Linked DNA regions of Homo sapiens: regions 2, 3, 4 and 5 are each linked to region 1. The links come from fine-mapping of genetic effects on gene expression. A gene starts in region 1. Each other region holds a variant in brackets. All regions are shown on one strand. Distances are from middle to middle. Region 1 holds the start of MBTPS1 (membrane bound transcription factor peptidase, site 1). Region 2 overlaps MBTPS1 (membrane bound transcription factor peptidase, site 1). Region 3 overlaps MBTPS1 (membrane bound transcription factor peptidase, site 1). Region 4 overlaps MBTPS1 (membrane bound transcription factor peptidase, site 1). Region 5 overlaps MBTPS1 (membrane bound transcription factor peptidase, site 1).

Evidence for each region. PIP is the estimated chance that this variant, and not a neighbour inherited with it, causes the effect. A credible set is the group of variants that fine-mapping cannot tell apart.
Region 2: its variant is the best candidate, but not a certain one, in a credible set for the expression of MBTPS1 in monocytes (Quach 2016, PIP 0.89).
Region 3: its variant is the best candidate, but not a certain one, in a credible set for the expression of MBTPS1 in testis (GTEx, PIP 0.80).
Region 4: its variant is the best candidate, but not a certain one, in a credible set for the expression of MBTPS1 in monocytes (CEDAR, PIP 0.88).
Region 5: its variant is the best candidate, but not a certain one, in a credible set for the expression of MBTPS1 in monocytes (Fairfax 2014, PIP 0.89).

Annotation. Positions count from the first base shown.
Region 1 is chr16:84,114,710-84,118,709 of GRCh38, reverse strand. MBTPS1 (membrane bound transcription factor peptidase, site 1) reads left to right here and starts at 1,768. Exons shown (of 23, transcript NM_003791.4): 1 at 1,768-1,975. It overlaps MBTPS1-DT (MBTPS1 divergent transcript), which reads right to left and starts at 1,667. Exons shown (of 1, transcript NR_186375.1): 1 at 1-1,667. RefSeq lists an enhancer at 1,038-1,197 and silencers at 1,348-1,447, 1,848-2,277.
Region 2 is chr16:84,085,720-84,089,719 of GRCh38, reverse strand. MBTPS1 (membrane bound transcription factor peptidase, site 1) reads left to right here. Exons shown (of 23, transcript NM_003791.4): 9 at 2,260-2,362. Among named protein-coding and RNA genes, the nearest start is that of MBTPS1, 29 kb to the left of the region's middle. The variant TG/G (reference allele first, on the strand shown) is at 2,246.
Region 3 is chr16:84,078,244-84,082,243 of GRCh38, reverse strand. It overlaps MBTPS1 (membrane bound transcription factor peptidase, site 1), which reads left to right. Exons shown (of 23, transcript NM_003791.4): 11 at 336-497. Among named protein-coding and RNA genes, the nearest start is that of MBTPS1, 37 kb to the left of the region's middle. The variant G/A (reference allele first, on the strand shown) is at 2,097.
Region 4 is chr16:84,072,551-84,076,550 of GRCh38, reverse strand. MBTPS1 (membrane bound transcription factor peptidase, site 1) reads left to right here. Exons shown (of 23, transcript NM_003791.4): 12 at 1,810-1,954. Among named protein-coding and RNA genes, the nearest start is that of SLC38A8, 32 kb to the right of the region's middle. The variant C/T (reference allele first, on the strand shown) is at 1,505.
Region 5 is chr16:84,059,935-84,063,934 of GRCh38, reverse strand. It overlaps MBTPS1 (membrane bound transcription factor peptidase, site 1), which reads left to right. Exons shown (of 23, transcript NM_003791.4): 19 at 490-630; 20 at 3,122-3,253. Among named protein-coding and RNA genes, the nearest start is that of SLC38A8, 19 kb to the right of the region's middle. The variant G/C (reference allele first, on the strand shown) is at 2,089.

The sequences.
Region 1 (4,000 bases):
GTTCAGAAAATCGTATGAGATCTGAGTCAGGAAAGGATTCAAGAATCCACCACCACATATTGAATCATATAGGAGCCGAGCACTTTATGAGTATGCTTTTTGTTTGTTTTTGAGACAAGGTCTTGCTGTGTTGCCCAGGCTGGAGTGCAGTGGCACAATCATGGCTCACTGCAGCCTCGACCTCCTGGGCTCAGGCAGTCCTCCCACCTCAGCCTCCCTAGTAGCTGGGACTGCAGGTGCACACCACCACACCTGGTAAAAACAAAACCAAACACAACTATAGAGACATGTCTCTGTTGCCCAGACTAGTCTCAAACTCCTGGGCTCAAGTGATCCTCCCGCCACAGACTCCCAAAGTGTTGAGATTACAGGCATAAGCCACTGCGCTAGGGCTTATGTGTGTACTTAATTTAACCCTCATCCTTTAAGGTAGATATTAGTACCCCTATTTTTTAAAAAAATTATTTATTTATTTTTAAGGCAGAGTCTCGCTCTGTCGCCCAAGCTGGAGTGCAGTGGTACGATCTCAGCTCACTGCAACCTCCGCCTCCCAGGTTCAAGCGATTCTCTGCCTCAGCCTCCTGAGTTGCTGGGATTACAGTCATGCGCTACCACACTCAGCTAAGTTTTTATATTTTTGGTAGAGCCGGCGTTTCACCCATGTTGACCAGGCTGGTCTGAAACTTCTGACCTCAAGTGATCCGGCTGCCTCGGCCTCCCCAAGTGCTGGGATTACAGGCGCGAGCCACCCCGCCTGGCTAGTACCCCTATTTTTGTAATGAAGAAGCTGAGGTACAAAGAGGTTAAACAACCTGCTCAAAATTACGAAGTAGAAGCCTGAGGTGGGGTATGGTAATTTGTGATTCTACATTTATCCACCATATTAAGTCAACTGTGTTAAATCATGTTGAAGGAAGATGATGCGCTGTGATCTGTAATATTGGTGCAGTTCAGCATTACCGTGGTGCAGTGTCAAGTTCCAAAAGACACAAAACTGTCTGATCGGCCTGTAGCGCATCACCGCCCACCAGCAGTACCTGAAGACGCTTTCAGTCCCCTGCTAGTGCCGTACGGAGTCCGGGCTGGTCCATTTACATTGAAAACAAACTGATCCTAGCATCTAAGTCACCCAGACATCTTTTAGGCGGCAAGCTTTTCAGACAGTTTAACACATTTATTCTTGTTTTTTCAAAAAGAGCAAACACGTGGCGTTACAAAGGTCCTCCGTTTCGCACGCACCGGTGTCCCGGCAGCGCGCTGCGCGTCGGGAGGCCCAGTCTGTCGTCCCGTGGGGCCGGGGGTCAGGAGGTCGGGCAGGCGGGATTTGGGGTTTCGCGTGTTCCGGACCGGACACTTCGCCATCTTAACGAGCTACCGCCCGGGTTAAGGGGCACCCAGGGCAGGTGCCCGGCCGGGGGTGGGGTGTCCGAGCCGCCGGTGCCTGGACGTGGACCCCTGCAGGAAGGGTCCGCGCGGGAAGCGAGCTCTCCACGAGTCCATGACAGCAGGCCCGCGGGGGCAGGGAGCCTGCGCCAGGCAGTCTTTCTAGATCCTGGCCCAGCCTGGCCGCTTTCGCGCCCGTGCTCCTTTTCGGGGATCCTAGAGCGACGCGCAGAGCGGACCAAGGGTTCCCCCAGCGCGTTCTCGCCGCCTGGCAGCTCGCTGGCCACGCCCCTCCGCTTCCACCCTGCCACCGGCCCCCGCCGCCGCAAATGTCGCGAGACCTTCGTCCATCCTCCCGGCGTGGTCCCGCTGCCCACGGCGTCCAGAGCGCGCACGCAAGCCCCGGGAGCGCGGGACAGACAGGGCACGCTGGGTCGGCGGAGCTGAGGCTCCCAGCTGTGGGCCTCGCTGGCCCGGTCGCCCAGTCTCGCGAGAGTTGGGAGTAAACAGCCCCGAATGGAGTGCCCAGGCGTGTTCGCCGCGGAGGCGCCGTTATCCCGGGCCCGCCGGCCCTGAGCTCCCGGCGGCGCAGGTACGTCAGCCGCCCGCGCGCGGCCTCCCCGACCCGCTCCGCCTAGCGGCGGCGGCCCGCTCGCTCAGGTGTGCCGGTTGCGTCCGAGGCCCCGAGGCGAGGGCTGCGGGGGCCGGGCCGGGTCGGGGGAGGTGGGCGCGGGGCCTCCGGCGCTTGTTTGGACACAGCGTGCCTGTACCGCGGCCCTGCGGGGGTCTGCGCGCTCCGGCAGCTTGTTCCGTTGCCTGGTTTTCTTTACGTGAAATGAGCATTCACCGAGTGAAACAATACGCCCTGCTCTGGCCCGGAGCCTCCAGACAGACTCAATTCTAGGTGCGCTTCCGGGGCAGTGCTGGCGTCAGGTTTAAAAGACGTCGATTCTTTGCCTTATCTCGGTCTGTGCATATTGCGCTGCTGGTTTTTGGAAATGCGGGGATTCTGTTCGGCGAACTCTCAGAACCAGATTGCCTTTTAAACCTGTAGCTTCTTAAAAATCTTGCCTCGCCTTGGCATGGTTGCGCTACCTAAGACCGTTGTGGATCGTCAGTATTTTTATTAAGATGTTTACCTTTCATATTGGGTTGAGCCCCTGAGAATCTTGGCCTATTTGTCTACACAAATTAAGTTATTAGATTCTGATTGACACTTCGAAATTACGTGGAGTGGAATACGACCTGCGTTGAATTCTGGAGACTCATCCTTTAGTCTGAACTGTGTAGGTAAGCCCTCCTAACGTCAAGGTCTCCAATTGTATGTCTACGAAAAGGAGGGCTTGCAGAAGAGAAGTAATTCCTCTCATTTTTTTTTTTTTCAATCTGGAGAATCCGCTTTTATTATTTATACTTATTTTTTAATGTAAGAGCTTCATTGAAGTAGAATTTACATACCATAAAATCCACCTGTTTTAAGTGTACTATTCAGTGGTTTTTAGTAAATTTACAGCAGCACAGCCACTACCAAATCCACTTTTAGAACATTTCCGTTACCCCAAGACCTCTGATGCCCAGTTGTAGTCAATGCCCATTTCCAGGCCCCGCCACAGGCAACCTTTCATCTACTTTGTCTTTCTAGATTTGCCTTTAATGACTATTTCGTATATTCAGATGGAAACATATGATATGCGGCCTTTTGTGTCAGGCTTCTTTCACTTAGCATGTTTTCACAGTTCATCCATGTTGTAGCATGAATCAGGATTTCATTCCTTTTATGACCAAATAATATTCAGTTGTATGGCTATACCACATTTTGTTTAAGCATTTATGCAGAACACTTTTGACAAATAAAAGTTTATTTTATGCTCTAATGTGTGATGCGGATGACAGCAAAACTGTTGATTGAGAATGGGAGCTGGGACCTGACCCAGACACGTGTCAAACGACTGCACTCCCCAGGCACCCCGTATAATCAAGAGTTGGTCCTTTCTATATAAAAAGGGAAAATTCCAATGCAGAGCTTGCGGAACCTTTGAAGCACCTAGGGAAGAAGTGGGAGCTCTTCTAGTCAGGAGGTTAACAAGAACTAGGAAGGCTGGGCCGGGCGCGGTGGCTCACGCCTGTAATCCCACAATTTGGGAGGCCGAGGCGGGCGGATCACAAGGTCAGGTGTTCAAGACCAGCCTGGCCAACGTGGTGAAATCCCGTCTCTACTGAAAATACAAAAATTAGCTGGGCGCAATGGCAGGCGCCTGTAATCCCAGCTACTCGGGAGGCTGAGGCAGGAGAATCCCTTGAACCCAGGCGGCAGAGGTTGTAGTGAGCCAAGATCACGCCGCTGCATTCCAGCCTGGGCGACAGAGTGAGACTATGTCTCAAAAAACAAAAAACAAAAAAAAACTTGGAAGACTGAAGGCTAAGGTGAACTGTACATTGCTGCCATCAGTGCTGCGGAATTCTGCTTGAGGAAACGCTTTATTTATTTTTATTTTTTTGAGACAGAGTCTCGCTCTGTCGCCCAGGCTGGAGTGCAGTGGTGGATCTCGGCTCACTGCAACTTCTGCCTCCCGGGTTCAAGCGATTCTCCTGCCTCAGCCTCCCGAGTAGCCGGGAC
Region 2 (4,000 bases), 29 kb after region 1:
CAGACAGGTCCGACCTGCCACTTACGGCTGAGGCACCGTCACTTCTCTGAGCCTCAGCTCCCTCACCTGTGATGGGAGTAGAGAGCAGCCTGCAGAGTACCTATGAGACTGAAATCAGACAGCAGGGGGAGAGCACCATGAATGCTGATGATGCTCTTTGAATGGAAGCTGCTCTTTTTCTTTTTTGTGCGTATTTCTACTGTTCAAACATATATTGTAGCAGTTTTCTAATCAAGAATCTGCAGCAGTTTATTATTGCCTAATAGATGAAATCCACATTTTTCTTTTGTTTTTCAAGGTCTTCAGTATTCTAGGCTGAATTGCAAACTTTTTCTGTAAAGGGTCAGATAATAAATATTTTAGGCGTTATTGTGTGAAAGCAGCTGCGGGTGATATATGTGTAAATGAACATGACTGTGTTCCAGGAACGCTGTATTTGCAAAAACAGGTGTGGGCCTGGTTTGGCCCATGGGCCGTAGTTGGCCAACTCCAGCCACAATCTCAGTTCACCTTGATCTTCCACTTCCCCATGTACACCTTCCTGGAATGAGTGTCCTCCTTCTGTTTCTCTCAGGTCTTCCGCACCCCATCCCTCTGCCCATCCTCCTGGCCATACCTGTCTGGATTCCCAGCTCTTTCGCATGCTGTTCGGACTGTTTTGTCACACGCTGGCTGCCGTTCTGAAACCCTGTGGCTTTTGTGGGTGGTTGCACTCCGTAGCTTCTTACCAGAGTTGTGAGTTTATGGTGTGTTGAAGGAGCAGAGCCTTGCCAGGAAGGCCCCATCTCCACCTTGTGTGTACGCTCATGCTGCCTCACACAGACCTGGCCACCTGCTGGCTGTTGAAGTGACAGAACGTGGCATGTGATCACGGCAGCCCAGCTTGTGGTGGGTGTGGTTTTTTCTGCTTGGGCATCTGGTGGGACTGCTTCCAGGGCTGGTCTGAGGACAGTAACATGCATACGTCAGCCCCTCTGGGAATGAGGCACACATCCTCCGGTCCCCTTTGCTGTGGTCTCTTTGTCTGGGTCCTGTGCCCTTGGTGCTCCTAGACTCTGTGGTGCCAGCAAGCCTGCAGCCTCACGTCCCTCCTTTTCAATACCAGCAATGATTTCTTGATGCGTTCCCTTATTTTTTAAGGGTTTAAAGTACACTAAGCATTATAGGGCTTAGCAGGTAGAGGAGGGTGGGAAGGTGGTATTTTTTTGGTCAACTTCAGTGGGAGTTTCTGTCAGTGACTTCTGTACCAGCCTCTGCTCCTTGAGTTCCTGGGAATGTGTAAACATCTAGCATCAGTCATCAGAAAATCATTATTCGTTCCTCTGAATGACCAGCTGGTAGGATATTGGTGGCCAGTGGGCTGAGGAGGCAGTACCACTTTTTCTCGGTGTGTTGGGAATTGTCAGTTAAAAACACACTCTAGAAGGAGAACTTCATGCTGCTATTATCTCTTAAGCCACTTGGAATCAGTTGTATGTAGTTGTTGATTTGTCAAAGAGTTCATTTTTTTTGGTAGTGGAGCCATAATAAAGCTTAGCAATGCAGTTTTATAACTGAGTGTCTCATATTTTCAAATGGTTCATCTTTATCTTGACTTTACGGTTTACACATTTTTGCCATTATTTATTTCACTATAATTTCTTTGCAGATCTAGTGCACTTAAGGTATTGGAGAGACTCTAAGGAGCTCAAGATTACAGAGTAATGATAGTCCTTCTACAGTTCCCTATGAGGAGGGTAGAACACCACCACAGGTCAATCGAAAACTTACCACTTCCTGACCTTGGCAGATGTAAATGTGTGGTTATGGTTTCTTCCAGGAGAAGTGTGTGATTTAGCTGGGGAGTTAAGATGAATGTGCTGGGAACAATTTGAAAGTGATGTGAGAATGTGTCGTTAGGTGATAAATTGTGATTGTGTTAAGTGTTGTGAGGTTCAAGGCAAGTACAGATGCTTAAGGCTTGGATTGCTGGAGGGAAAACGTGAGCCTTGAGCCCCAGTGTGCCAAGTTGACAGGGAGGAGAAGAAAGGAGGGGCGTTGCAGGTGAGAGGGCGTAATGTGAGCACAGCATGAACGTGGCAGGATCATGCGTTTCACAGGACAGCCGTGAGGAGCTGCACACGTCTTCCCACAGAAGCAGCTCATACAGTGTTAGATTGTTCTGGGAGTATTCGCCCTGGTTTGAATCATCCATTTTAAATTATTTCTCTTGTTTTTTTCTTTTTCTTTTCTTTTTTTTTTTTTT[TG/G]GTCTCAATATAGCACTCTGAATAACCCTGCTGATCAAATGGATGTGATTGGAGTAGGCGGCATTGACTTTGAAGATAACATCGCCCGCTTTTCTTCAAGGGGAATGACTACCTGGGTACGCTCTTCTTTGCTAAATAATTGTATTTAGCTGGACAAACTACTGTGGCTAGTGGCACCGGTTGTTGACGAGCCTTGGGGTGTATTTGTAAGTGCACAGACACCCTCACATTCACATGGGAATAGCCGGGGCTGTGAGTGCCTGCCCAGCCGTGAGGACGAGAGATCTGGGCCCCGTCAGCATCTGCCACTTCACTCTGGCAAGTCCACAGCTGCTGTGATGAGCACCGGCTGATTCTAAGCGGTGTTTCCCAGTTTAACTTATTAATTGATTTCTGAGGAACTCACCTTTAGGTGAATTGGGTTCCTGCCCGTTTACCCTATCTAGTAGTGGTAAGCAGTCCTCCTCAGTGGTAGGTGAGATGATATTTTTTGGGGGAGGGGAGCCTTAAGAAGTTGGAGAAACCATTGAGAACAGCTTAATATCAACTCTGCTAACACAGAAACAATTGTATTTAGCTGGACAAATTCAAAATAACTGCTACAGTTAATAATTCAGCTGTTTGGGGTTTAATTATGCAGCACATTCACCCACCTTTACCTGTCAAAGTTTGATGAAAAATTAGACGCTCGTGCAGAACAGCAGTTGGGCACCTTTGCCCTCGCTGTGGCCGAGGGGAGCATCTGCCCTTCTCATTCTTCAGGGTCAGAGCATCTCTTGGTGTTTAACGTCACATGCCACACTCGGAGGCCTCAGATAAGTCCCTGGAAAGATTCCCAACTGCCTGGGAACACTGTGGGCCTCGTCCACACTGTAGCCACTTTACAGGATAGCCTTCTGCCTGAGCCTTTGTCCTGTGACAGCGTCAGCCCCCAGCGTCCCCGCCACTCAGCCCCACCAGGGGTCCCCGCCTCCCACACTCACGTGCCTCTTCCTGGAGCTGACCTGTTGGCTGGGGACCATTCTCTCATGTGACAGTCTGTGCAGGGCAGGCTGCGTGTCCTCCCATCCACGCTCCCTCAGCATGTTCCTTGTGCTGCCGGATAATGGGAAACTGCATCCACCACTTTGTCCCCAGCTCCCTGTGTAAATGCTCTCACCGAACTGTGGTGAGATGTCATCCACTTTGTCCCCAGCTCCCCGTGTAAACGCTTTCACCAAACCGTGATGAGATGTCACGTCCATGGCCTTCATCACCAGCCAGCTTTTTAATGGCATTTGAGAAATGTCCTTCCATCATCACAGCTGCAGTGGAGGATGCCTTTACTCGGTATCCCAGTATGTGCATCCATGGTCCTTGGGTTTGATGGTCAGAAAAGGGCTTCCCTTCAAATTGGGCTCCTGTTTTCTGACAGAATATGAGATCCTATTCTAATTTTCGTTTTGCCCCAATTCTTAAGAAGCTTAAGCAAGTACTTATTAAAACGTTATCCCAAGTTAGTCGTGTGGTTATCTTGTTCCTTCTCAGTGGTTTCTTATTTCCTCTTTTACAACCGTTTGAAACATCCACTCATACCGTGTACTTTTTTCCTTGTAAAGAAACATGTTTGGGTTTTTTTACATTTTAATTTTCTAATTTTTCTAACATATTTCTAATTTTAACTTATCTAGAGATAAAGCAGTTTCCAGTTTCTGGTCTTGGTGATAAGCCAGTGTCCACTTTCCAGTCTGGCATGTCAGCAAAATTAAAATACT
Region 3 (4,000 bases), 36 kb after region 1:
GCAGGCTTCCTCTCCCCAGAGGAGTCAGTACCTCCTATACATTCATGCCTTCTGCAGCCTATGTGGTTGTTTAGTTGAATTATCACAAAAATATGTGTTACTGATGCATTTAGCATAAGTGGGTCCCGTAGAAGGTTGCGGAGTGGTCAGTCCTGGATTGGGTACAGAGATGAGTGTGCACTCATTCTCTCATGCAGGCTGTGCCAGACAAGCACCTGTTGGATACTAAACAAGACTGCAGGCCTCTTGTGTGCACGTTTGTAGGTTAGGTTTTAGTGGTCCAATTTCCATTCTTTTACTGAGAGAAAATAGGCAATTCTTGATTTTTCCTCCAGCACAGTCCAGAAGCGTGAGCTGGTGAATCCCGCCAGTATGAAGCAGGCCCTGATCGCGTCAGCCCGGAGGCTCCCCGGGGTCAACATGTTTGAGCAAGGCCACGGCAAGCTCGATCTGCTCAGAGCCTATCAGATCCTCAACAGCTACAAGCCACAGGCAAGGTCAGTGCACCGCCCTGCCGATGGGTCTTTCTCTCCTTCACTGGGCTCTGGGCGAATTTTCCCTCTGCACAAAATACAAGCCTCAAAACAGAAAATGATGACTAAGCACAGAATTCTCGGGGTGCTTGGAGAGGTTTTGCTGCTGCTTCTACAGGGTGCTGCTGGCAGAACTGGTAGCTGCTTTCGCTTACTGATGTGATCTTTAATATAAATGGTTAAAAGTAATGATTTCTGAGTGGTTTTTTTGCTTTTGTTGTTTACTTTCTTAGACTCTTGAAATAATCTTAGGTTTACAGAAATTTTGCAGAAATAGGAGAGAGTTGTCCTACAAGGTTGCCCAGTTTCCCCTGATGCCACCATTTCAGATGAGTGGAGTACAGCTGTTAAAACTGTCATACAAACACTGACACTGTGCTGTAATTCACCTGCAGACCACATACATCTCGCCAGCTCCTGTGGTACTCCCGTCCGGCCTGGGCCCTGCTTTGTTTTCACCCTTATTTTGAAATGATTTTAGATTTACAGCAAAGTTTCACAAATAGTTCATGAGAACCCCTGAGTCCTTCACCCAGCTTTCCCTCACCTTAGTATCTTCCATAACCTCAGTATGAGCGTCAGAGTCTGGAAATGAACCTTGATGTAGCACTGCTGACTGACCTGCAGGCTTCACGCAGATTCCGCCCATTGTCCCACAGGTCCATTCTCTGGGATCCAGTCCAGGATCCCACATTGGATTTCATTGTCCTGTCTTCTTGGTTTCCTCTAATCACAGACGGTTCCTCCGTTTTCCTTCATCTTGTTATTGGGGGTATTCATTTTCATCATTTGATTAATGTGGTCTGTCAGTCTGGGTCCTCCAAGAAGCAGACGTCAAGCTAGGATTACATGTTCAAAAGATATGTGGGGAGTGAGGGCCTCTGAAGGATAAAGGGAAGGGTGTGGGAATAGGCAGGAACTGCAGTGCTGATCTGACACCGAAAAGTTAGGAGGACTGGGGAGGAAGAGGCTCGCACAGGCCTGAAAAAGTTTTGGCTGATGGGAAATCCTTGAACCAGATTGCCTGTTGGAGGAGTCCTGTGTCCCCCCAGAATGGGCCTGCCCTGGTGCCTCCTGTGTGCTTAGTCATTGGCTGGGAGCAGCCCCAGGGGAAGCGTGGCCTTGGCACAGACGTGTGAGGACCTGAGGGTGGCAGCTGCGGGTGTCAGCCAGCAGTGTCCTGCAGAGGAGACCTGAGCTGCTGGCCCTGTGGGGCCAGAGGTGGCTCCTGCCAGGTGTCTCCACTGTGCAGCCCGTGTTTCCTTTGTGACTTCTCAGTGTCTTGTGGGGGCATGTTTCGAGATGGCCTTGTTTCGTCACATACTTCCACTCACTCATGTTAGCATGCCTTGATGGTTCTTGCCTTTGGTGATTACTCCTGACAACTTTGACACGTGATGATTTTCTTTTTCCTTCATTCCATTTACATTGATTAATTGGAACTCTCCTGGAAGGAAGAGCTGTCCTTTCTGTCCCATTTATTTATTCAGTTCTTTACATCAGTGTGGACACATAGATATTTATTTTACTCTGTGGATTATAATTAATATCATTTAGTGGGTC[G/A]TTCAAATTGTCCCCGAGTTGGCTGTTGGGAGCTCCATCTAGTTGGCTTATGTGTGTTTTCAGCATGTGTCCAGCCTTTTCTGAGCACTTTCTGTCTTCCTGGCAGCACAGGATGTCCTGTCATGCACCTCTGTGCTCTAGCCTTGGTATCAGTTCTGTCTCCAAGCAGCTCTTTGCTGATGGCCTCTTCTAAAGAAATCAAGACCTGGGCACTCGGGGTGCTCCAAGCTGCTGTGCTCACAGTGGTTACTGCGCTCTTCGGACAGAGCTAGGCAACGTGTGGACACGTGCACAGACACATACGACTGCTTCTGTATCTGCCTATCTGTGTATGTACTGGAAACATGAGTTCATGCCACCTCCAGGTTCCAGCCAGTATCTCAGTGTTCATTCCAGCCTTTCCCTATCCTTGTTTCTATTTATTTATTTATTTCTTATTTACAGAGATGGTCATGTTACCTCTGTTTCTAACTCCATTCTCCAACAGTGAGAAGCCTGGCTCTCATTATCCACAATATGTTGGCTTATTTGCTTAGTTGTAGTGTATACGTACTGAGCAGCTTTGGAACTGCTAGCCCATGTCCTTGTGAGTTTTTTGAATATAGTATTTGTGACAGTGCGTCATTATCTTTGGCCCTACAGAATACAGTTATAGTGTTTTTTTCAGTTACTTAGGTTAATTCTTTCCTTGGTGTCTTTTTAATACAGTTGGACTCATTTATTCGTGTTTGTATTCCTTTTTAGATTTCCCCCACATCCTCGTTGATTATAACTTGTTATTGGGTGTGTGAAACATGACTGTGGTTCTAAGGATGTGTTCGTTTGTTCTTGCACTGCTATAAAAAAATACCTGAGACTGGGTAATTTATAAAGAAAAGAGGTTCAGTTGGCTCCTGGTTCTGCAGGCTGTACAGGAAGCATAGCACCAGCACCTGCTTCTGGGGAGGCCTCAGGGAGCTTCCAATCATGGCAGAAGGTGAAGGGGAGCCAGCACATCACATGGCAAGAGAGGGAGCAAGAGAGCGGGGAGGTCCCAGACTGTTAAACACCCAGATCTTGCCTGAGCTGAGTGAGAACTCAGTTACCACCAGAGGGATGGTGCTAAACCACCCATGAGGGGTCTCCCCCAGGACCCAGTCCCTCCCACTAGGCCCACCTCCAACATGGGGGATTACACGTCAGCGTGAGATTGGGAGGGGGCGAGCATCCAAACCATGTCAGTTCCCACTCGCCCATTCTTTCTACCAGGCTTCCGCACACGCCTTAGGTAACCATGACATCAGGTTTGGGTTTATCCTTCCCCCTGCCCCCACCACCCCACAAATGAGCACATACATAGAAGGATAGCATCGCTGTGGATATTGTTTTGGATTCTGCTTTTTTCACTTAACGTCCTGGAAATCTCTCCACGTCAGTGCGTAGAGATTCTCCTTTTTCACAGCCGTATCCTGTGAATGTACAATCGTTTAAGCCACTACTTGTCTACATATGGGCTTTTAAGTTGTTTCCAGTATTTTGTAATTATAAACTTGCAGTGAATAACCTCAGGCCTGTGTGTCTTAGTTTTGTTGGAGGTGTTCCTTCAGGGTAAATTGCTAAAAATTTACCCTGCTCAGCATTGAGAGCGTCTGGTAGCTCTGTTAGGTAAGGTGGCACTGCTGGTCTGGGTTGAGAGCATCGGGTAGCTCTGTTAGGTAAGGTGGCACTGCTGGTCTGGGTTGAGAGCATCGGGTAGCTCTGTTAGGTAAGGTGGCACTGCTGGTCTGGGTTGAGAGCATCGGGTAGCTCTGTTAGGTAAGGTGGCACTGCTGGTCTGGGTTGAGAGCATCGGGTAGCTCTGTTAGGTAAGGTGGCACTGCTGGTCCGGGTTGAGAGCGTCAGGTAACTTAGGTAAGGTGGCACTG
Region 4 (4,000 bases), 42 kb after region 1:
TCTCTAGGGTTTTCCAGGTGTACTAACCTACCATATGGAAATAAAGATAGTTTTACATCTTCCTTGCCAATTCTTAAGGCTTCATTGATTATTTTCTGTCTAGTTGCATGGGCTGGTATATCTAGCACAGTGTTGAACAGCAGGGGAGAGAGTGGCTATCCTTACGTTGTTCCTAATCTTAATGGAAATGCCTCTTGTATTTCTCCGTTAAGTAAGATGCTGGATTTATCCCTAAGGTGTGTATATCTATATATATATGTATATATTTTTTATTGTGTTAGATTATCTGTCTAGTGCTGTTTTTCTGAGCGTTTTCATGAGGACTGTGGATTGAATTTTGTATGTTTTTTCAGCATCTAGAAAGGTAATCATATGAATACTTTAGACCTATTAATATATATGGTTTATGATATTAATGAGTTTCCCAATATTGAACCAATCTGTAATAAATGCCACTGGTCTTGCTATTTTGTTTTCTTAATATGATGTTGAATTCTGTTTGCTAATAATGGTTTCCTAGTTAAATCATGTTGAATTAGTAGTCGAATTAAACTGATTACAGAGCACAATTACCAGCAAAGTTTACAAACACATTTCAAGTAGAACAGATACCTTTGCTGATGCATACAATTGTAGTCACATGGCCGATCCATTCAGGATTTTTAAAACTAGGTAGTACCTATTTCCTTTTCTTTTTCTTTTTTTGGTGAACTTCAGACTTGTGAAGGTGGTATCTGTTGAGATAACTTAACTGTGATATGTGTTGATTATAACTGCCTGTGAAAGTCACAGTATCCCTAAAGATATTCCATTTGGTTTCTTAAATAGCAATTCAGTTGGCCCAGATACATCTTTGTTATTACAAACTAATAAAAAGTACTCCTTATACCGTAGTTGCTGTTTGAGAAAGGCTGGCATCTCCTGTAATGAGGTGAAGCAGTTGCGCAGAGCCGCCCGCCCACTGCACGTGGGTGCAGCTTGAGAAGCAGGATCCACGTATGCCTGGTGCTCTCAGGGAGGCCATCGTGGGTCACGTCTTGTCTGAAACATTTGTCTGTTCCTGTCTTTTCACCTGTTCGGGCGTAGCTGACACCGCTGCTGCACTAGGAGTGATGTGAACCCAACACAAACTCAGTTCAGATAAGGGGAAACCATGAAACCAACATAATTGCCAGAGCACTTGTGTCAGCACTTCTGACACAAATTATGTCAGGGTCCCCAGCACCTCTCCCAGGCTCGGTGCTTTAGGGCTCACGGGACTCAGCCTGTGGTCATACTCCCAGCTAAGATTCATTATAGTGGCACAGCAAGGATGCACAGCGGCTCTGTAAGGGAAAAAGATGCCTCACACGGAGAAAGCCTGGAGAAATCCAGGCGCAGCTTCCTAAGCTCTCCCCTCTCTCCTGCCAGGCAGGGTCTCACAGAGCTGGCCCCTTTCCTAGCAGCAAGCTGCATTGACATGTGTACGTGTTTTTGCCCAGGGAAGCCCTCTAGAGACTCAAGT[C/T]CAAGTTTCCATTAGGGCTGGTCACGTACTCATTCTCTGCCAGTGACAACTCCCAAAGCTCCAGACTTGCAAAAGCAGAGGTGTCCCTGCACATCACACTGTCTGTATAGACAGCAGGCTGGCACAGAGGCCTTATCTGTGCAGGAGCATTCCAGAGCCAAGTTCCCAGATGCCAGCCTAGGGCAGCGCTGTAAGCAAGCCCTTCTGAAGCTAGGTCTGCTTTGTTAACTCTGTCTTGTACAGTTGTGTTGCTTCATTGTAGTTTTCTCATATGATCTACTCTAACACTGTATTCTTTATTTCAGTTTGAGCCCCAGCTACATAGATCTGACTGAGTGTCCCTACATGTGGCCCTACTGCTCCCAGCCCATCTACTATGGAGGAATGCCGACAGTTGTTAATGTCACCATCCTCAACGGCATGGGAGTCACAGGAAGAATTGTAGATAAGGTGAAACTTCTCTCTGACTTGGTCTCTGACTTGATGGTGAACTTAGACACAGCCCAGACCTTTAGGCCATAGTTACTTCTGCTGAAGTTAAAAAAGGAAAAGTTCTAGGCCGAGGAGAGAGGATCACTTGAGCCCAGGACTTTAAGACCAGCCTGAGCAACAAAGTGAGACCTGTCTCTACAAATAATAAAGAAATTAGCCAGGGATGGTGGTGTGTGCCCGTGGTCCCAGATACACAGGAGGCTGACGTGGGAGGATCACTTGAGTCTAGGAGGTTGAGGCTGCAGTGAGCCAAGATCATGCCATTGCACTCCAGCCTGGATGACAGAGCAAGACCTTGTCTGGGAAAAAAAAAAAAAGGAAATAGCCCTGTCTAGGGTACCAGGGCTATTGGAAGTAGTGATTTGTTATATGCTAAGTCTGTTACAGAATAAGTCAGGGTATAAATTAATGAAACCAATTTTACTTTTTTGCTTTGGCATCTTGAGTTTGGCTCCTGAGTCAGCTAATTACATTTGATTTTTCATCTATACAATTTTGCGCCTATAATTAAAGGCCCAGTTGTAGTATTTCATTCTTTATTTTTTTTTGAGACAGAGTGTCACTCTTGTTGCCCAGGCTGGAGGGCAATGGCATGATCTTGGCTCACTGCAACCTCCGCCTCCCAGGTTCAAGCGATTCTACTGGCTCAGCCTCCCAGGTATCTGGGATTACAGGTGCCTGCCACCACGTCTGGCTAATTTTTTGCATTTTTAGTGGAGACAGGGTTTCACCATGTTGGCCAGGCTGGTCTCGAATTCCTGACTTCAGGTGATCCAGCTACCTCAGCCTCCCAGAGTCCTGGGATTACAGGTGTGAGCCACCGCACCAGCCAGTATTCTATCCTTTAATGTGTTTGGAAGATACGGTCTTTTTTTTTTAATATTGTTTTGTAAATTTTTAAAAATCTTAACTATGTAGACACTATCACAATAATAAAAAATAGGGAAAAACCATAGAAAACTCGCTTCCAGCCTCAGCATACTAACTTGGCCACTGTTTTTTAAATATTCTTTTCCAGCCCTTATCTGCAATACTTATTTTTTTTGTTATCATTGTGCACTTGGCAAAAATTCACAACTTTTTTGGTGGTTCTCATTATATCATAAATATTGAAAAATTCAGCTGCCAGGCGTGTTGGCTCAAGCCTGTAATCCCAGCACTTTGAGAGGCTGAGGCAGGAGGATCACGAGGTCAAGAGATCGAGACCATCCTGGCAAACATGGTGAAACCCCGTCTCTACTAAAAATACAAAAATCAGCTGGGCGTGGTGACACACGCTTGTAATCCCAGCTACTCGGGAGGCTGAAGCAGGAGAATCGCTTGAACCTGGGAGGCGGAGGTTGCAGTGGGCCGAGATCATGCCACTGTACTCCAACCTGGTGACAGAGCAACACTCCATCTCAAAAAGAAAAGAAAAATTCAACTATATGCATGGCACCAGTATACTTCTTAATGGTTGTTTATATAGAAATAGTAAATTATAATTTGTTTGCTATTTTCCTTTGAACTGTTAGGTAGTTTTCAATTATAAACATTTCACTGAATATTATTGCATATATGGTTTTCTTTTATTTTGAATTATTTCCTTAACATAAACTCCCTGGATTTGCTCCCTGAATCAGAGGGTGTGAACAGTCAAGGATGGCTCTTGGCACATCCTACCAAATTCTGTCCAGTGGAGTTATGTCAGCTTAGACTGCTGCCAGTGGGGTTCAGGAGAAGATGGCTCCACCACACCTTCACTGGGTGATTTGCCTTTTTTTTTCTGAGACGGAGTCTCGCTCTCTCCCAGGCTTGAGTGCAGTGGCACGATCTCGGCTCACTGCAAGCTCCGTCTCCCGGGTTCACGCCATTTTCCTGCCTCAGCCTCCCGAGTAGCTGGGACTACAGGCGCCCACCACCATGCCCGGCTAATTTTTTGTATTTTTAGTAGAGACGGGTTTCACCATGTTAGCCAGGATGGTCTCGATCTCCTCACCTCATGACCCTCCCGCCTTGCCCTCC
Region 5 (4,000 bases), 55 kb after region 1:
AAATTAGTTACATTTGTCCTAGCTTTTCATAATAAAACGTGAAACCTGGGTATTAGTATATATGACTGTATTCATAGAGAAACCTGTGTGTTTAGCAAGATCTGCTGGCTGCCCTTTGTGTAGGTGTCTGAAAACATAGGCCTTTCAGGATAATAAGAGGGGACACAATTTAGGTTTTTTTTTTAAGATAGAGGCAGCACCTTTGCAATTGTAAATATTATGTACTGCCATGGCAAGTAAAAATGAAAGTGGATAGATACGGAAATACACACAAAGTGAATTTTGCTAAAACAAATCAATGGCACTTAAGACATTTCTATTCTAAAAGGCTTATTCTTAAGGCTTTTCTATTCTAAAAATTTGCAATGTTTTAATTGAATATTAGATTTTGTAAATGTGGTTTATTTGTCACGTGGATGAAATATCAGGAAATAACTCACTGCTCAGTGGAAACTCTCATGGCTGTTGTTTTTTGTTGTGTTGTTTCAGGATTGGAGGTTTTAAAGCAGGAAACAGCAGTTGTTGAAAACGTCCCCATTTTGGGACTTTATCAGATTCCAGCTGAGGGTGGAGGCCGGATTGTACTGTATGGGGACTCCAATTGCTTGGATGACAGTCACCGACAGAAGGGTAGGAAAAACGCAGATGGACTTTGTGACTTCGGCACTCAGATCCTTTCTTCCCTTTGTCTCTGGAAAGGCGCCCGTGAGATGCTGGCAGATCAGCCGACATCTGTTCACTTGAGCCAGGCTCAGCTGGAGATGTTGCAGTCACTTTGATTGCTTGGAATATTTTGATAGGTGTCTGAGTGTGCACACATTTAATAAGCAAAACAAAGCTACTTGTTGGGGCCATGATGCCTCTTCTCCATCTTCACCTTCCTGAGGCCAGCGGAGGCGGGACTCCCGCGTTGTGGTGGAGAGTCCCTTCCCTGACTTCCTTGGGGCCTGCCCCTCCCAGGCTTCCTACGCCGTGCTGCCTGGACTTTGTGGGCACTGCCACGAGGGGGCGCCCTTCTCTGGTCTGACTCACTCTTTTACTGGAGGGCTGGCTCTTGGCTGTCCTTCCAGACCTGGAATTCGGGCTTTTCTTAGCCTTTATCAGTGAAGAGCGTTTGTTATCTCGAGGCGTGAAGGGGAGGCAAATAGGCATGCCAGTCCTCTTCCCTCCGCGTCTTTATGTCAGTCTCTCGATGCATCCGTTGGATTTGGGGGCTTGAGGTTGGGCACAGACTATTTTTCTCATTTTGTAAAGGGGAGAAAGAATGGTAAAAGTGCTCCATGTTTTTACCTGGTGAGATGATAATGACACCAGGACTGAAAGGCAACCTTCTAATGCGCTGTGACCACTGGGGAACTCGAGGCACAGGGCGGGTGGTGAGTGACAAGAATGAGGCACTAACAGCGTGCGCTGAGAGGTGTGTGTGTGCCCCTCCGTTTCAGGCTGAAGTTGACTACATTCCTGGCATTTATGTAAATCCCTAGACTGGGATGGGTCTTTTTAAAAATCAAAAATGGGCCGGGCGCGGTGGCTCACGCCTGTGATCCCAGCACTTTGGTAGGCCGAGGTGAGTGGGTCACAAGGTCAGGAGTTCATGACCAGCCTGGCCAACACAGTGAAACCGCGTCTCTACTAAAAATACAAAAATTAGCCAGGCGTGGTGGCGTGTGCCTGTAGTCCCAGCTGCTTGGGAGGCTGAGGTGGGAGAGTTGCTTGAACCCGGGAGGCAGAGGTTGCAGTGAGCCGAGATCGTGCCACTGCACTCCAGCCTGGGTGACAGAGCAAGACACTGTTTTAAAAAATAATAATAAAATAAAATTAAAATTAAAAGTGAGGGTTAAAGTCACAGTTAAAGGAGGTTAATGTTTTATTTCCACAGAGATTTTAAGACCTGAGATCTCCTGGTAAGAGTCTTTATTAAATTGTAAATGCCTGAGAGGGTGGTCCTAGGCCTTACATTTAAAATGGCAGCTTTTTTCATCTTTCAGGGGCATTAAGCACTTGACCAGAAGTGCCCTTTAATGAGAGGAAAGTACTTAATGGCATTTTTCTCACACGGATCTTGTCTAGTCCAGGTTGATGTTAATG[G/C]AACTTGAAGGGGCAGACACAGGAGAAACAAGATGGAAACAGAAGCTCCAGGTTTCAATACCAGGTTGCGCCTTCCCTCTCAGAAAGGATCCTTTGTGAACGGGAGCTGTTGCTAGCCCAGTGCCTCGACTCTGAGGTGTCCCTGAAAACAAATTGCCCTTTCTCTGCTGTCACACTTCCAGTGGTCAGGGCCCTGCCGACTCGAAGCCCAGCTCAAGTGAACAGATGCTGCATGGGTGTTGAGCCTTGCCTCCACCCCCTGGGGTGTCAGTACAGTTCCTTCTCCCCAGGAGAGCCTCTGGGATGCAGCAGGAGCCATGGCCCTCCGTTCTCCTCTCCCTGTTGCCCCTGAGACCCCGCTCTCAGGCCCTTCTTTTCTCAGTGGGTGTCACATGGTCTCACTGTCTCTGAATGAGCTCCATTCTGCCCCCATCCATGAGGAGCTGAGTGTGGCACTCAGGCAGTTGGTGCAACCTGGTGGACAGTGGTGCTGACCACCTGGAACCCTGGGGCACTGGGAGTGGAGCCCTGGTCAGGTCATGGCTGTGTGTGCTTATCTGGCTGGGCTGGGCCACTGAGAATGCATGTCTTATGAGAATAGGGGAATCTGGAACATGTTGGATTTACTTTGACCTAAACTCGTGACTTCTGAACTCCCATTTCCCCCACTTTTGGGGACTAACTTAAAAAAAATTCCTTTAGAGATTTCTTCTTAAAAGCTAAATTCCGGGCCACGTGTGGTGGCTCACACCTATAATCCCAGCACTTTGGGAGGCTGAGGCAAGAAGATCACTTGAGCCCAGGAGTTTGAGACCAGCCAGACCCATTTCTGCAAAAAATAAAAAATTAGCCGGGCATGCTGTCATGTGCCTTCAGTCTCAGCTACTTGGGAGGCTGAGGCAGGAGGATCACTTGAGCCCAGGAGCTCAAGGCTGCAGTGAGCTATGATTGCGCCACTGCACTGGGTGACAAGAGCGTGACTCTGTCTGGAAAAAAAAAAAGGAATTCCTAAACAGGCTTGTTGACTTCGCAGACTGCTTTTGGCTTCTGGATGCCCTCCTCCAGTACACATCGTATGGGGTGACACCGCCTAGCCTCAGTCACTCTGGGAACCGCCAGCGCCCTCCCAGTGGAGCAGGCTCAGTCACTCCAGAGAGGATGGAAGGTGAGTGGATGGGCAGGATGCCTTGGGGAGGGAATTGGATCCAGCTGAACATGATGCTACTTCAGCCAGTGGCTGTGCCTGCCAGCAAGTGGGGCCAGTTTGTGTGCGCCGCTGAGTGGTTTTCGTAATGGCTGCGGGTAGAGCAGCACTCAGCGGCTCTAACCTGCCGAGAGGCCATCCTTAGTCCCCAGAGGGCCATGATCGAGGACCCAGTGTGCAGCTGCTTTCCCACGTGCACCCCGACCCTCACGCCACTCTGAGTGTGTTTACCGTCCCGCTCTCACAGGTGAGGACAGTGGCTCCTACAGATCTTCAGGAAGAATCACCAACATTCTAGAGCACTTGCCAGGTCCCATGCAGCAGGCTGGGATGCTCCCATGGATTACCTCACTGTCCCCTCTCAGTAATCCTGTGAAAATAGATGTTATTATTCCCAGTTTCCAGATGAGGAAATGAGAGCTGAGAGAAATTAGATAACTGCCTGAGATCGCCTGGGCGGTATGTGGTGGTGGAGCCTCAACCCGCCTCTGGGGCCTGTGCTGGTGCCGTGGGGCCGCCAGCTGCTTGGCACTTAGTGGGGTGGGTATCAGTGCGTCTAAGTCCCTGGTGTGCTGGTCCTTACAGCGCTGCCCGTAGAAGGCTCATGGGAACCACAGGCATCATTTAAAATTTTCCAGGAGCTGCGTTTAAAAAGTAAAAAGAAACACAGATGAAACTATTTTAATAATATACTTGAGCCCAAGACAT